Linked DNA regions of Homo sapiens. Each later gene encodes a partner of the first gene's protein in a complex. Links are inferred from orthologs where the notes say so. Each region holds a gene or a part of one and is shown in the gene's direction. Other genes may lie near its edges.

What was found.
Region 2: the proteins of SUDS3 (region 1) and SIN3A are in contact, whole or in part, in an NMR structure (PDB 2N2H), measured with the Mus musculus proteins. The link is inferred for Homo sapiens from one-to-one orthologs. Residues at the interface, in NP_848737.3 of Mus musculus: Ala205, Leu207, Asn208, Tyr209, Leu210, Leu211, Gln215, Ile216, Glu218, Asp219, Leu220, Thr222, Leu223, Leu226; in NP_001103821.1 of Mus musculus: Glu616, Glu619, Leu620, Val623, Arg672, Ile673, Tyr674, Ala675, Lys677, Asp680, Ile681, Ile691, Ala692, Ile695, Val696, Arg699, Met702, Lys703, Glu706, Trp707, Glu709, Ala710, Phe714.

What each region holds. Positions count from the first base shown.
Region 1 is NC_000012.12:118,399,498-118,408,282, forward strand, and holds part of SUDS3 (sin3 histone deacetylase corepressor complex component SDS3), read left to right. Parts: intron 1-1,161; coding exon 1,162-1,257; intron 1,258-2,261; coding exon 2,262-2,323; intron 2,324-2,485; coding exon 2,486-2,507; intron 2,508-3,914; coding exon 3,915-4,020; intron 4,021-8,785.
Region 2 is NC_000015.10:75,384,407-75,393,191, reverse strand, and holds part of SIN3A (paired amphipathic helix protein Sin3a), read left to right. Parts: intron 1-376; coding exon 377-950; intron 951-3,370; coding exon 3,371-3,540; intron 3,541-8,754; coding exon 8,755-8,785. UniProt on the Homo sapiens protein: Acts as a transcriptional repressor. Corepressor for REST. Interacts with MXI1 to repress MYC responsive genes and antagonize MYC oncogenic activities. Also interacts with MXD1-MAX heterodimers to repress transcription by tethering SIN3A to DNA.

The sequences.
Region 1 (8,785 bases):
TCTTGAAAAAATAAGAAATATTTAGTAACAAGAGTGATACACAAAACGATCTGATTTGTGTCTCAGGAAGATCACTTTGAGGGAGGGGAGGATGGATGGGACATGGGAAAGACCACTGAAGGCCGTGGAGGTAGCCAGTGAAAGGATGAAGGGATGGAGTGGAGGCAGGACCAACATTAGTTGGTGAACCTCATGCCTGGATGAAGGAAGACAAGTCACAGATGCAGATTTGTTCTCGCATGGAAGGAGGGATAGATTGGATGTCCCTGAGATACAGGAAAAGAAGCAACCTTGGGAGAGGAAACGAGGAGAACTGAGTTTTTGTGGGGCATGGAGAATGTGTGGTGTCAGGTATCTATTGCCATTCAGAGGGATGTGTGGAGCTGGAAGTGGTGATTGCAGATTGGTTGGGATACAGTCTGAAAGGAACTGACTGGACCCCAAAGATGATCAGTATTCAGGGAGCAGACAAGCGAACCCCGAGGAGGCAGGTTCACCTCCTTGTGCGCCACCTCTTGGGAGGAGCTATTTGAAGGCGTGGGGAGTCAGCAGCAGTGTGAGACCACAGAGAGGAGTGAAGAAGAAGGGAAAGAGGCTTTTATTGTGAGCCCTCATTGTGTCATCTTGATAGTCAAGTAGCTACAAAAGGTTATAGAGAAAAAAAATCCGAGTCTGTAAATGAAAACTTCGTATAAAAATGTTGGCACTGAGGCCAGTGGCCTCTAAAAGAGCCTTTCATACCAATGGGCTTCAGCACACCCACCCTCTTTGGGAGCTGCAGAAATTAGTCAGCTGAGATGACCTTCAGGTTCCTTCCTATCCCGAGAGCCTGTGACTCTGGGCTTCTTAATTTGAGGGAGAGGAGGAATATCCCCTAGGTTTTGAGGGTGCTGGAGAGATGCCCACAGTGGCTGTAATGCTTGACGGTAGGGCTGCATTTCTGAGAGGGGTGTGCACTTAGGGCAGCTGGTCTGAATCTTACAAGTATAAACGCTTTCTAAAATCTAATGGGGTGTCTGGCTACGACCATGTGTAGAACAAACACCCCCAGTAAAACAGTTCTGATTGGGTGGCTGGGGGGCAGATATTCTTATACTATAGAAATTCTTACTGACTTCAAGTGGGAGTTGGATAGATTTACCCATTCCATTCTTGCCACAGATTCTATGGAGGTGAAACCTATCATGACCAGAAAGTTGCGGAGGCGACCAAATGATCCCGTCCCCATCCCAGACAAGAGGAGGAAACCTGCTCCAGATATCCATTTACATCAAGCCTTAACCGCCTTTCTTTTTTAAGACTGTGGAATCCTATGTTTATCCGTTTGCTAGGGTACACATGGCCGTTGTCCTACAGAAAATAGTAACATTTAACTGGAAAGCGTGTGTTAAATGTTTGTCCACAGGTCAGGGGTTGCTCATTTTATCATGGTAGTCCTCATTTGCTACTGCTTTTGGTGGGAGAGATGTATAGAGTTGTGATTTGGAAAGGTGCTTTGCATGCAAAGTTCAGCCTGGTTTTAATGCTAACATCAAGATTCAGGGGCATCTGAAAACTTGATGTGCCTTAATTTTTTCACCTGTAATTTTCCACCTTCCAACTGTAAAATGAAGGCAGTAATATCTACCTTTATGTACCTCTGTTATCTATGTCCATAATGTAGTGGATTGCAACCTGTTTTTAAATTAAAGCAAATGAGATTTCAGTCAGACATAAAGCAGCCCTTTAATCATAAAAATGGTAACGGAAACAGGAAAGATGGAGAAGCGTTGTTTCTGTTCCTTTCGAGGAGATGGTGAATAGCTCTCTGCCCAAAATGGCTTAGTCATTTGTGTACCATCAGGAAAGGGCATAACTTCAGGTTGCTTCTCCTTCACAACAGGAGTTAAGTTGCTGAGGGAAGATTGGCCTTACCTTGGGTGAGTGTGTGTGGAAGTCTTTAGATCTTTGGAACAAAAGCGCTTTATACATTCATGATGAAATTCTTATTTTACTGTTTCCTTTGCTGTGTTATTGTAGATGCCTAATGAAGCTCATTCCACCTTCTCATCCTAGCAGTGGGGGATGTGAATTCTTTTATGTATTGAAGTACCATGACATTTAGTAGGAGAATCATAAATTTCTAAGAAGCAAACTGTTACTGTAGAAACATCATTTAACAAAATCATACTTTGTAAATTCTAAAATACTGGTACCATTGTGTTGATTACTCTTTGCCTGGAAACTGTACTTTTCACATACAGTCCTTTAACTCTCAACACCCCAGCTAAACTATTTGTTAACAGATGAACAGATCATGGAGGATCTGAGAACATTAAATAAGGTACGGTTTGACTTTTTTGATTTATTTGAAAACTCAGGCTTTTGTGGTTTTCTGATTTTGTTTGTTAACATGTTACTTGTTAATCATTATGATACCTTTGACACCTGAAGTTGCACCTGAAATGATTTTCTCTAAGATTTTTTGTTGTTGTTCTTCCTACAGCTTAAGTCACCCAAGAGACCAGGTGAGTGCATGATGTGTTGGCATTTGTGCAACCTTTTTATCATGTTGTTGGAAAAGGGTGTGAATACCTGTCAGGAAATGGTTGCAATTTTCAAAAATGAAATGTTCATCATTTGCCTAAGAGTAGTCATCATGAAAACTGAAGGGGACCTTAACTATACCCCTCCCTGATTTCTTTTTTTTTCATAACCCCTGCTTTGTTGTTTTTATTTTTTTCTTAGGATTTATCATAAAAGAGACATTTGATTGATTGATTGATTTCCTTCTGTGTAGGCATCAGGCATAAGATTTAAGTACACATCCATTTTTGAAAATGAAACCAGAAGGATTTTTAAGTATTACTGGCTTTCTAAAGCCAAGTCCTAGGCAGTTCTGCTCCCGTGGCTTTTCGTGGCCTGACTCTGGTAAGGCATTCCAAGGCTGCTCTGACTCGCAGTTCATAGAAGAGACCAACCAGCTCAGTATTCATAGTTGTTCCTTCCGGAACAGCACTTGAGATCATCAGTGCTAGCTGCCAACTAGAATTCTGAATTGGTGACATCTTTTTTTTGTTTAAAGCACCATGATTACTCGATTACTCGATTACTCACACATCCCTCTACTTACTGAGTCTTGTGGAAGAAAACAAGAGTCTTCTTTTTCTAGGTAATATCTTCCTGGGGGCCACTGCGGTCCACAGACATCCTGACCTTCTGAGGCACGATGGGGAGGGGTGAGGGAGTTGTGTGAGTGTAAAGTTAGTAGTTCTTTAAGTGATTCCTTTTTTTTTTTTTTGGATTATGGAGTCTTGCTCTGTCGCCAGGCTGGAGTGCAGTGGCGTGAACTCGGCTCAGTGCAACCTCCGACTCCCAGGTTCAAGTGATTCTCCTGTCTCAGCTTCCCAAGTAGCTAGGACAACAGGCATGTGCCACCACACCCAGCTAACTTTTGTATTTTTACTAGAGATGGGGTTTCACCATGTTGGCCAGGATGGTCTCATCTGTTGACCTCGTGATTCACCTGCCTCAGCCTCCCAAAATGCTGGAATCACAGGTGTGCGCCACCGCACCCTGCTGAAAACGATTGCATTTTTAAGAGATTTTCATAATACTTGCCCTTTGATCACCAGGGCTTTAGTCCTACTCTAAGTGACCTTATGTATTTGCACATTTGACCTTAATCTTCCTGAAACCCAGGTGTCTCTTCCATTTGAGAGGCTAATCTGCCTTGCCTACTTCCCAGGGTTGCTTTGATGATCAAGTTTAGATGGAATATACAAGAGTTTTGCTGAAATCCCATGCATTATCACTGTAAGGGCTCAGTGATGATTATTACCACATTCTGATAGTGTTTCAATTAAAGCATGTTAACTGGTAGACTCGCATGTGTTTGTTACATTCTTAGTCACGTAAGTATTGGTTTCCTCCAGCATCTCCATCCTCTCCTGAGCACTTGCCTGCAACACCCGCGGAATCTCCAGCCCAGAGGTTCGAAGCTCGGATAGAAGATGGCAAACTGTACTATGACAAAAGATGGTATGTTATGGGAAAACCTGGACTAGTAAGAGTCTCATATGAACCACTTGGAAAGAGGGCTGGGGCTATTGTAGTTATTTCAGATCACGGCTGCTGCTAAACTTACATAGTACTAAAAGTAGAAACCCATTAAAAAATGTATTAGCAGTCATTTAATCAATACTTCCGGTGGATCTTTGAAAGCAGCGTTTCCCAAAACCATGTTCTGCTCCCCTTCCTTCTCCATTCTGGTGTCTCTGTACTAGAATTTGCAGGCTGGTATCTTGTGTGGTACCCCTGCCAACTGGGGCTGGGGTGTATGTCCCCCCTCTGACCCCTCTTACCTCTGCTCCTGTGTGCTAAGGTTAATAGGTGCTCTTCGGATTAAAGGATTTTGTGGTCAAATCAGTTTGGGGGATGATCATGTTAATTAAGATAAGTGGGTTGCTCCCTTGTAGTACCCTTTGGGTCCTGCGATATGCTAATGTACACTGTGAATTTCTAAGATGTTATTAGATGTTTTTTGATGACACATACCCTTTTTTCTTACATGATCCAGCTGCAAAAGTGGTCAAGGACACTTGCTTGGGGGAACTGTATCCTAAAACATTCCTAGTTTGTTTTTTGTTTTTTGAGACGGAGTCTTGCTCTGTCGCCAGGCTGGAGTGCAGTGGCGTAATCTCGGCTCACTGCAACCTCCGCCTTCCAGGTTCAAGCGATTCTCCTGCCTCAGCCTCCCGAGTAGCTGGGATTGCAGGCACCCGCCACCATGCCCAGCTAGTTTTTGTATTTTTAGTAGACACGAGGTTTCGCCATGTTGGCCAGGTTGGTCTCGAACTCCTGACCTCACATGATATTACTGCCTTGGCCTCCCAAAGTGCTGGGATTACAGGCATGAGCCACTGTGTCCTGCATTCCTGGTTTACATTGAAGACTCTTTGAAACGTTCAGACCGCCTAGCATTTTTCATTGGAAAGGTAATGGCAAAACAGTATGAAAGAACCTTAAAAGCTCATACTTTTGTTCATTCAACAAACATTTCTTCTGTTCTGTATTACGCTTTCTGCTAGATATGAAATGGATACTGCCATCATTTCTCAGGTCTTTTCATTCTGATATATTTCTTTTTATTCTTTATCCATATGCAGGCATAGTCTATTCATTCTAAGGCATAGTGGACATACGGTTTGCTTTGCCTTTCTGTTTGGTTATATTGAGAATGTTTTTCTGGGTTACTGTAAGGTGTCTCATTATCATTTATAATGGCTATATAATGACCCTTTGAGTTTCAGTATCTAACCAAAAGTTCCAAAATTGGGGTAATGATTATTTATTTTGAATTCTTAAAAAAACCCAGCATTGTGTTAGGTTGGTTACCCGATAACATTGTACTTGTCAAAAATGCTTAGGGTTCTAGTCATGGCCGAAGTAAATCATTTCCACCTATTAAGTTGCAGTGAGTTAATTGCCCAGTAGATGCTGGAGGCTGGCTTTATCTCTAAGGCTGATCTTGATGACTTCTTCCCCTCTGAGTTGGTGTTCTTTGGCATTCTTCAGAAAGGTCGGTTTGTGTTATATCTTAACATTATGTCTCAGAACACATCGCCACTAGGTGGCAGGCTCTAACAGCTTAACACTGAGAAGGGCAAAATGAGATGAAAAATGTTTCTAATAATGAAAACCAAATAACCTTTAAAGATCAAGCCCACACATAAGAACCATCTTTGAAAATGATGAGATTTATCACTAACATTTTTACAAATCTATGAGTCTTAAAGCCATGTGATATTTCCAGTGATGTTCATTTTGTAATTGTGTTGCTTTGAATCTTCCTCTTTCTAAGCTTAATCCTCAGACTTTACGAGACATGTCTTGAGGGTGAAAATGCAGTAAAATAAAATTCTTGTTTTTTTAAAGAAGAGATCCACAATGTCTGGTGTTTCCTAATGTAAACAAAATGATCAGATTTGATGTGTTAGAACTCCTAAGCATTTTGAAGGAATTTTCACCATCTTTCTTACATTAACAGCAGAAATTTAGAAAATAATGTCACTGGATGCATTTTACTTTTTCAGTGAAATTGAAATTGCTTATTCTCTTGTTAAATATACTTTGAGAATGTTGTTTTTTTTCTCTATTCTGTATACTTTTCATTTTTGGCCTTGGCAGTCAGAGATCATAATGCAGTTGTTGAAGGTGGGTCTCCCTCTTCCCCAATGACAATTGAAAAGTGTTCCTGGGAATACTGGCTGAGGTGTTCACTGGTGCAGTGCCAGCCTCTCCCATCTCACCAGGCTCATGTTTGGCTTTTGTATCAGTTTGGAGGTTTTGTTTTTCTTTCTTTGGCAGACGTGGCCTGTGGCTGAGAGGTCAGCTACATTGCTTTATGCTCTTTCCAGAGGGTATGGAGTATTTTGGTGCAGCCGTATTTTTGGCAGAAGATGTCTTCCTGAGTTTTAAATGACTTCAGCAAAACAAATGGGATTCAGGCATCGCATCTTGGTGTGAATACTTGCCAAGCTCCCTTTCATTTTGAAAGATAAGGATCTTCCCTTTGCCTTGGTCTTATACTGCTTTTAAGGCATTCTATATCATGCTATGTAAATTTGCCTCACATTTTGATTTGGACTAATGATCTCTCAAAAAATACTGTGAAAAAGTAGCTGATATTTGAAAATAACTAATTGATGGTACGGGTGGACTTCTGTTTTTCTCTCCTTGTTTTAAATCTGGGGCTGCCTGTGAGTCAGAAACGAAGCCACCCACTTGCTCAAGAGCATTTTCCCCTTCAGCCTTCGGTCGACACAAAAGACTTAAAACAGTGAATATTTACCAGTAGAATTGGGACTCCTTGAGGTTCTGTAGCTATAACGTGGACTCACTTATTGGGGAAATAAAGTGTTAATACCAGGATTCTCAGTAGGATACAAAATTAAATTAATTTTCCTACCTCCTCGCCCCACTTTTGTGTCCACCTTCTTAAGAAATTGCTTTTCGAAAATAGTACAGTAGTGGTAATTTCTAGTTTTGTTCGGTTTAATAGTAGAGGTTCAAAGCTTTAAGAACTTAATTGTAGAGATTCCCAGGTCAGAATTTCCATTAGTTACAAAGTAATAGAGTCAGTTTGACATTTGGGGCTTAGTCTTTGAGGCTATTTAAATATCTTTTTTCAGCAGCTGAGTTGCAGCTTGTAAAACAGGTTAATTGGCCTAAAAAAAAAACGCACATTTTTACTACCCTGTTGATGTTGCTTCGTAGCACATTTTATATCTAAACATATTTTTAAATTTCTTCCCCCCCCTTTGATTTTTCTTTAGAAATTAAAAAGTAAATTCTTATGTTAAGGTTGTCACATACTTCTTGGTTTCATCTTTAACCGCCCCCGCCCCCCCATATGAACACTTCATTTTTTATTTTTTTGAGACAGGGTCTCACTGTCCCCCAGGCTGGCATGCAGTGGTGTGATCATAGCTCACTGGAGCCTTGATCCCCCTGGCTCAAGCGATCTTCCCACTTTGGCCTCCCGAGTAGCTGGGACTACAGTCCTCCATTACCATGCCTGGCTAATGTTTTTTTGATTTTTAGTAGAGATGAGGTCTTGCTATGTTGCCCAGGCTGTCCTCAAACTCCTGAGCTGAAGTGATCCTCCTGCCTCAGCCTCCCAAAGTGCTGGGATTACAGGTATGAGCCCTGAACACTTTAATATCTAAGGACTTATCTTTTCAGAGAATTCAAATAATTTAATAGATTTGGTATCTAGGGATAATGGTTCCCCCAAGACATCGTGTAGTGCATGAGGATCCCTTGAAGGTCTCAGAGACTGCGGTTCAGGAGGGACCTGGTGATCAGTTGGTTTGGAAGTTGGCTGCTTTGGGAAGCATGTTGGCCACCTCTACTTTGGAGCAAATAGGGACCAATGGTGGACATTCAGGCCACCACCATTCAGTGATTCCAAAGGAGGCGGATCTGGGAGGTGGCCACATTCCCAAGTTCCAGACCACTTCCCAGAGGTAATAGACCAGCTTGCATTGTTTACTCTGGGTGTTCGCTTTTAAGTCAGTTGAATTTCTTGGGTTTGGGTTCTAAGTACCACTGAAGGAAAATACAATGCATCTCATGAGAATTGTTGGAATAGCCTTCCAGAGTCAGCTGTTTTCTTTAAAAGACCTTTGTGAGGATATGATACATGGATACACATGTAACATGTATATGTGTTATTTTTGGTTTTTTTTTTTTTTTTGAGACAGAGTCTCGCTCTGTCGCCCAGGCTGGAGTGCAGTGGCGCAATCTTGGCTCACTGCAGACTCCGCCTCCCAGGTTCAAGCGATTCTCCTACCTCAGCCTCCTGAGTAGCTGGGACTACAGGCACACGCCAATATGCCTGGCTAATTTTTTGTATTTTATTTATTTATTTATATTTTTTGAGACAGAGTCTCGCACTGTCACCCAGGCTGGAGTGCAGTGGCGCCATCTCAGCTCACTGCAACCTCCGCCTCCCGAGTTCAAGCTGTTCTCTCCCTCAGCCTCCCAAGTAGCTGGGACTACAGGCACCCGCCACCACGCCCAGCTAATTTTTGTATTTTTAGTACAGACGGGGTTTCACCATGTTCGCCAGGATGGCCTCTATCTCCTGACCTCGTGATATACCCGCCTCGGCCTCCCAAAGTGCTGGGATTACAGGCGTAAGCCACTACGCCTGGCCAATTTTTTGTATTTTAGTAGAGACGGGGTTTCACCTTGTTGCCCAGGCTGGTCTCGAACCCCTGAGCTCAGGCAATCCACCCAC
Region 2 (8,785 bases), on another chromosome or scaffold:
AGTAGTACGATCTCGGCTCACTGCAACCTTTGCCTCACGGGTTCAAGTGATTCTCTTGCCTTAGCATCCCAAGGGCTGGGATTACAGGCACCTACCACCATGTTCAGCTAATTTTGTTATTTTTAGTAGAGGCGGGGTTTCACCATATTGGCCAGGCTGATCTCAAACTCCTGACCTCAAGTGATCACCCTCCTCGGCCTACCAAAGTGCTGGGATTATAGACGTGAGCCACCGCTCCCAGTCCCAGGTCCTAAGTTTTTGATTAGAAAAATATAGACACTGTGGTTGATAATGGGATGTATGGCTGATGTGGTCTTGTAGACATGTTGTCGCTGTAGACATCTCACAGAATACTTTTGTGTCTCTGTCCCATCAGAGGCAAGAGCAGGCTACGGAGGAGAATGCTGGTGTACCTGTTGGCCCACACCTCTCACTTGCGTATGAAGACAAACAAATACTGGAAGATGCTGCTGCTCTGATTATCCACCATGTGAAGAGGCAGACAGGCATTCAGAAGGAGGACAAATATAAGATAAAACAAATCATGCATCATTTTATTCCAGATTTGCTCTTTGCCCAAAGAGGTGATCTCTCAGATGTGGAGGAAGAGGAAGAAGAAGAGATGGATGTAGATGAAGCCACAGGGGCAGTTAAGAAGCACAATGGTGTTGGGGGCAGTCCCCCTAAGTCCAAGTTACTGTTTAGTAACACAGCAGCTCAAAAATTAAGAGGAATGGATGAAGTATACAACCTCTTCTATGTCAACAACAACTGGTATATTTTTATGCGACTGCACCAGATTCTCTGCCTGAGGCTGCTACGGATTTGTTCCCAAGCCGAACGGCAAATTGAAGAAGAAAACCGAGAGAGAGAATGGGAACGGGAAGTGCTGGGCATAAAGCGAGACAAGAGTGACAGCCCTGCCATTCAGCTACGTCTCAAAGAACCTAGTGAGTGCCGAGACCTCTGATTTACAGAGGATGTGTGAGGTTGAGGACCTTAGAGCCACCTAGACTTGGGACTGCTTCTTTTATTAATAGAGCACAGGCATTAGAGTCTGTGTAGTTAAACTCTCTGAACCTGTTTATCTGAAAAATGGAGGCTCTAGTTGCTTGTGGTGTTGCTTTGTGCAAAGTATCCTATGCAGGGCTTAGATCATGGACACTTGGTCAGTGGTTGGTACTGTGGACGCACCTGGGAAGGGGGTATCACAGTTAATTTCTCAAATGGCAGATTTCTGGGTTACTGCCATCTGTTTCAAAGTACAGATAGAGACTAAACTGTCACAGCCAATTTCAATCCATGACAGAACATAAATTCCTAGTGCTTAAAACAGAATTTTCTCATATTTTTGAGCAGGACTTCTGTTTAACCAGTGGGGTTTATGGCTCATTCTTAATATGTAGAAATAGTTTATGGAAAGGAGACTGGAACTCAAAAGGTGATATGAGACATGGAGAACAGGCAGGACAGGGATAAAGATGTAGAACTCAGGAAAAGGAAAGTAAGTGAGGGTTCAGGACGCTGTCATGTGCTTTATGTAATTTTGTGCTGCCTGCTTCCAGTTCACGTCATAAATTAGGTACTTGAGCTGTGAGCCAAAAGCTTTTTCATGAAGCATTTCTTCTGGGCTCTTAAGGAAATAGCCAACCTGAGGAGTGTATCTTCTTCTTCTTTTTTTTTTTTTTTATGTGTTGCTGATGTAGGAAGCCCAGATATGGCCCTAGCTTTCTATCTGTTGAGGAGCTAATGACACTGAAAAATAATTCTGAAAGCTTTTATCTAGACTAGTCCTAGCTCGAAAGAGATAAATTTTAGATCTCATTGTGGTGATTCCATCTACTTGGGTAGAAATTAGAAATTAAATGGCCTATTCCTGGCTTGGCCACTGACTTAACCTGGTTTGAGGCTTACATAATGTTGTCTTGTCTGATAATGCCAACCCTCACACTTACCACAGCTTGTTTGGACAAATCTGTGGTTTGGACTCAAAACTTTATTCTGGCATAAAAGCAGTTTTCATAGCAGTGGTATATTTTGGAGTCTATAGCCTATACCTATTCTATGGAGCTAAAGAATGTGATAGTCTGTGATGAAACTCAAGCCAGTTGCCTCTTTTAAACAGTATTTGTCCTGTTTTGCCTGTTTTTTAATGAATTCGTCAGACTTCAGATAAATGGAGACAACTTGGTTTTGCTCCTAGCCTTTTTTCTCCAGCACAAACACAACTAGCAAGTAACCAATTAGTCAGTGACAAATAGTTCGTTTTGTAACTTTTTTCATTTTAGTCAACTTTTTGTTGAAGTGCAATGTATAGGCCGGGTGCAGTGGCTTACACCTGTAATCCCAGCACTTTGGGAGGCCGATGTGGGAGGATCACTTGAGGCCAGGAGTTTGAGACCAGCCTGGTTAATAAGTGAGACCCCATCTCTACAAAAAAATACATATAAGGTACGGCATGTATATATAGAAAAGTATACAAATCAGAATTGTGCAGCTCAGTGAATTTTTACAGACTAGACGTACCTATGTTCAAGAAACGAAACATAACCAGTACTCTGATAACCAGTCCTTTTTCCACTTTGTTGATTTCTAACACTAGAGATTAGATTTGTCTATTTTTGAACTTTATATAAATGGGTCTTTAGTAAGCTAAAGGCAGCACTCTTTAATACTCCTTGTGCCCTCTGCTAGTTGCCAAATGTCTTTAACAACTGATGAGATTTATTCTAGCTAGTGATTGAAATGATTCATGTGCAGCAACTACAGATGATTTAATGCAATTTGTGAAATACAACGTAGCGAATCCATTTTTAAACAAAAGGACTTTGACAAATGCAGATTACTTCATTATTCATAAAGGATTTAATTTGCACTCCTATTTTTGTGTTCCCAAGAGGTTTCCCAGTGCTGGAGTATGGCTGTGTCTGCCTTTCCTCATCTGTACTTTATGCTTCATTGAAATAGCTTTATGAGCAAGTGACCCATGTGAGGAATGCTCTTGTGCAGGCTGGGAGAGTAGGTTCCTCTCTCAGCAGGGGAGCCAACAGCTCTTTGAAGGACTGGCTTCCCTAGGATATTTTCCTCTCTGAAAGTGGCCCAGCAGTACCATAAAGAAGTATCTTTCTAGCATGGTAGTCAGAATATTAGAAGCCACTGTTAAAGTTGCAGAGTCACTCTGATAGTGCTGGTGATTGTAGTCACCTGTCGGAATTCATCTCTGTTTACATTGGAATGAGTGAGTATATTTTGAATACCTAGTGTTCATACTTTCAAATGCCATTTAGGCCAGCTGTGGGATTTGCCCTGTACTCTATCCCTAGTCTTTTCTTAGCAAGGTAAGGCCTCACCAATCCCATCTCTCCCACAGTGGATGTTGATGTAGAAGATTATTACCCAGCTTTCCTGGACATGGTGCGGAGCCTGCTGGATGGCAACATAGACTCATCACAGTATGAAGATTCACTGAGAGAGATGTTCACCATTCATGCCTACATTGCCTTTACCATGGACAAACTGATCCAGAGCATTGTCAGACAGGTGAGGGCATGGAGGAGGCTAGGGTGAGTAAGGGAAGAAATCCTTACCTAGAGATGGGCCACGCAAGGAAAAGGAAAGGCAACTTTTTCATATAACAGTGTTTATGAACGTAGGGTTCTGAAGAGAGGAGGGGAGGTTAATGTGATGCCTGATTTCTCATGTTAACAAAGTTGCAGTGTATGAGCCTGCCTACCCCATATCCTTTCTTGCTGGCCACCTGTAGAGTGCAGTGGTCCTGACCCCAGCTTCCTGCACAACTTGTCTATCTCTTACCTTGTCTGCCATGGGTAAGCACACAGTGTGGAACATTGCGTCTTCCATAGGTGTTGGTAAGTTTTTTTTTTTTTTCCTTAAATAGAGACAGGGTGTCACTGTTTTGCCCAGGCTGGTCTTGAACTTCTGGTCTCAAGTGATCCTCCTGTCTTGGCCTCTTAAAGCGCTGGGATTATAGACACGAGCCACTGCGCCTGGTCAAGGTGTTGGTAACTCTTATGTACTTGCATTGTTTAATATTTGAAATTCTTTTTATAAGAAAGGGTTCACATAACATCTTTTATAATACTCTGCCCACCTCACTCATCTGCGGTTCCCTCTAAGTTAGGTTTCTGGTTGGTTTTGTGTGTTCTTCCTGTGGCACCCTGGGAACTTGTAAACATGTTGTTCTTTACAACAATGATATAAAAAATAGCTTGTAACAGATAGTCACATTTCTACTTCTTGGACTTGAGTTCTGAACTCCCAGAGAGATTGTTGGTTAACTGCTTTTTTCTTTTTCTGGAGACCCAGCTCTACTGCTGATTGACTGCAAGTCCCCAGCAGGGCTTCATTTTTCCTTTTCAGCATCCTGTTCTGTGGCTCCCTTGGCCCTTTTTGCCCATATGCCAAAGAGCTGAAAATTGATGTGGGCTGTGTGAAGACTGGCAAATACCTTAAAGTTCTTAGTGATGATTCCAGCTTTCTCCTTCTTATAGACGTACTATATGGGCATTATTGGTCCTGTCAGCTGGGTGGCTGATTTGAGTTTTTCAGAACTGTCTCCCTTCTTGGGGGCTAAGAGCTTCCTGGAGAAGAGGTTGAGCTTGGAGTCTTAACTCCTTCAGGTGCTGAACATTGGCCCACAGGGACATGGTGTACTAATGCCACCCTCTTGTGGATGCTGGTCACCCTTAACTCTTCTAAGCTGAAGCCCCTGCCAGCTTGTACTTTGGTGTGGTACCTCACTGTGGGGCAGCTTACCATGGGTCAGATGGGTCCAGATGCAGGGTGCAGGTCAATGTGGTATACTTTTGCTTGCATCTGCAGATCTTCTGGGCTGGCTGGTTGAACCACGTGGCCATGGGCCACTGCGATTCCTTGTGGAAGTAGGGCTTTAGGATCATGCTGTTCCACCTGGGTACCGTGGCTACCTACAGCCCTCTTCCATAGAATAGCTCAGCAGAAAGGCGGTGAAGTACTTAAGTGAAAACTTGTAAAAAGCAATTTCTAATTCTAGAATCCACACTGCCACTGTAGAAGGAAAGAGCTTGTTGCTTAATGTTCTCTTGGGCTAAAATATTGAATTCTTTGCAAAGTACCCATGCTTTTGCCTTGGTTTTGGAAGGGTGCATGCCTCTGTACTCCTCCCACAGTATCTACACAGGATTGAGGAAGAGCCCTTCATATAAATGAACCTTAACATCTGGGGGAAAGTTGTCAGATAGTTGTTTCCAATAAGTTGAAGAAGTTGTTAGGCCTTCCCATAAGAGGTCTGGATGGTAACTGGCAGAAATCATTAGATGGATACATAGTCACCCATAGTCATACTTTTTCAGACTAATCTTCCTTAACTTCCCTGAAATTTATATAAAATACAGACTCCAGTTACCCTGTGCTTATGTTGCTGATTACAGGCTTGCTGCTGCTTCAGCTAGGAACGAAGTCTTTCATACCACCAGCACAGCTTAAAAAAAAAATCCAATAAAACTAACTTTTAATAATTCTGAGGTTGGTTTTCGAAACAATAGTTACAATTATTTACTGTATCTGGTTATGATTTTGAATCAGTAATAAATACTATCTCCACCCACCCCCCGCTTTTTTTTTTTTTTTTTAATGGAAACAGGTTTCATCCAGAAAACCCCAAAACAGTGACTTTTTTTTTTTTTTTTTTTCCAACCCAGGGTCTCACTCTATTGCCCAGGCTGGAGTGCAGTGGTGTGATCAGCTCACTGTAGCCTTGACCTCCTACCTCAGCCTCCCAAGTAGCTGGGACCAAAGGGGCCACCACACCGGCTAATTTATTGTATTTTTTGTAGAGATGGAGTTTTGCCATGTTGTCCAGGCTGGCCTCAAACTTATGGGCTCAAGCAATTCACCTACTTCAGCCTCCCAAAGCGCTGCGATTACGGGCATGAGCCACTGTGCCCAGCCTACAGTGACTTTTTAAAACATTTTCAAGCTTCTCAACTCCTTTAACTGGAGGTATCTCTTCTCTCATTCTCCTCATATTTGGTGTTCCCTCAGATTCCACTGCTGACTGAATGTACAACATATATTTCAAAGTCAAGGCTGGTCATGGTGGCTCATGCCTCTAATACCAGCACTTTGGGAGTCCAAGGCGGGCAGATATATTGAGTCCAGGAGTTGGAGACCAGCCTGGGCAACATGGGGAAACACTATTTGTATTAAAAATACAAAAAATTAGCTGGGCATGGTGGCACATGCCTGTAGTCCCAGCTACTCAGGAGGCTAAGGTGGGAGGATCATCTGAACCCAGGAAGTTGAGGCTGCAGTGAGCCGTGATTGCACCACTGCATTCCAGCCAAGTGAAGCCATTACATTTATCTTACCTATTGTAGGCTGGCTTAAGAGGGATTTGTATTAAGAATACAATAGGCAACCTCACAGACATCCAAGTACAGAACTCAAAATAGGACCACACCATGGAAGGATTGGGCTGGGAGGTGATTTTTCTCTCCTGCATGCCTTCACTCTGGACTTCTGCTCCATGCTTGTGCTTTGCTCTGCAGATGAACATACGGCATGTGCTCCAGGCTCCTCCAGCCTCTGAGGCTTTGGCTTGCCCTCCCAGTACCCCTGGTCCCAGTGTTACTAGACCTTTCCATACAGATGCTCCTCCTCAAAAAATCTATTGAACACCCTCTCTGTCATCTCCAATTAGCAAGATAGAGAATCTGATCTGCTTAGCAGTGGGGGTGGGAGTTCCGTAGCTGTCTCTGGATTTGTAGTGCTGTCTTTTCTGAAGACTCGAGGAGGGGCCAGATATCCAAAAAGAGAGTATGGGTGGGGAATCAGTAATACAGTCTACTTCAACAAGAAAGTATAAAGTAGAGGCGGTGGCTCACGCCTGTAATCCCAGCAGTTTGGGAGGCCAAGGCGGGTGGATCACTTGAGCTCAGAAGTTTGAGATCAGACTGGGCAACATGGCAAAACCCCGTCTCTTCTGAAAATACAAAAAAGTTAGCTGGGCGTGGTGGCACATGCCTGTAGACCCAGCTACTTAAGAGGCTGAGGTATGGGAGGGTTGCTTGAGCCCAGGAAGTTGAGGCTGCACTGAGCCAAGATCACGATGCCACTGCACTCCAGCCTGGGCGACAGAGCGAGACTCTGTCTCAAAAAGAAAGTAGAAAGTGGAAGCATCTGTATGTATGATTGAAGTCATGCTTTCCATCTGTTTTTTTCCACCTTTTCTTTTTTCTCCTAAAACACTGTATCTTAATCTTCCTCATGATATCAGGTACTCATAAGCATTATTTTAATGGTTGTATCAGAATCCTTTATCTGGACTCATTGTGATTTATTTATCCATCTGTAGTTGCTGGAGATACTGCCCTTTCTGCCACACTCAGTCACCGTTCTGACCTTTCACTGTGTCCAGTTATCTACTAATACACATACTGGTCATTTAGGACTTAAGAATAAATAGTTATCATGGTTCCTAACACTTAAAAAGAATGTGTCTTCCTAAAAATAGAATGGCTTGGTGGTTATGATCATCTTAAAGTTTTTTAAACAGACAAATCAATATTGAAATTAACGTTTTGCTTTCTTCTTGTATCTATTTTTCACTTCTGTCATTTTGATGATAAAGTTTCATTTGGAAGGATTTTTATTTCAAAATAGAAATAGCATGACATGAGAATGGGAACTCTGAAACGTTCAACTTTCTAGTCATTAGTTTCCTAAGATTGTCACAAAAGCTACTGATAGTCAATCATGATTGGCCTGTATGGAAAGTGAGTTAACTTTATGTACAACTTAAGCCCTATACTTTCTATCAGATACAGAAAAATAGGTGATGTGTTTGGAAAAGTATTGGGCTAGGAGTCAGGAACCTTGACTTTTAGTCCCAACCCTCCTTCTTCAGCTGAGCACCCCTGGGCAATAATTCAGCAGCTATTTCTTAAATACTTAATGAGTTTCAGGCTTTGTAGTTGGCCTGGGAATATAGACATAGATACTGCATTCATGATTCTCCAAGGCTCCCTTCCTCACCCCAGCTCACGGTGAGCTTTGCAGTGGTGCAGTCTCGGCTCACTGCAACCTCCATCTCCCAGGTTCAAGCGATTCTCCTGCCCCAGCCTCCCAAGTAGCTGGGATTACAGGCTCCTGCCACCACGCCCGGCTATTTGTGTATTTTTAGTAGAGATGGGGTTTCGCCATGTTAGCCAGGCTGGTTTTGAACACCTGACCTCAGGTGATTGGCCCACCTCGGCCTCCCAAAGTGCTGGGATTACAGGCGTGAGCCACCTTTCTGATGCATTGTGTAAATTTGTCTCCTAACTGGCCCCAACTCTCTGTCTAGCTTGCCTTCCCAGGGCAGTTGTGAAGATCAAATGAGAAAGAATATGTATGAGAGCCAATTGTAAATGATTTTAAAATGCAATAAAGATATGACCTATAGAAAATTATTTAAAGATGCTTAGAATTTTAAATAGTACGATTATCCTGAGTTCTCTATGGTTCTTATTTTAAATAGATAGGAAAGTTTTACCATGGACCACTGATATGGTTGAAAATCCTGGCTTGATTATTCTCCAAGAAAATGATACAGTGGTTTGTGTGATTAATTTTCTAAAATTGCCAGCACCCCCCCACCCCCCCAAAAAAAGAAAAACCTTTTTGGAGTTGAATGACTACATCAAAGGAACGTTGACTGTATAATGGAGAAATGTTTTCTGTGTTCACTAAAAGCTTGCCTTTGTTTGCTTCCAGCTGCAGCATATCGTGAGTGATGAGATCTGTG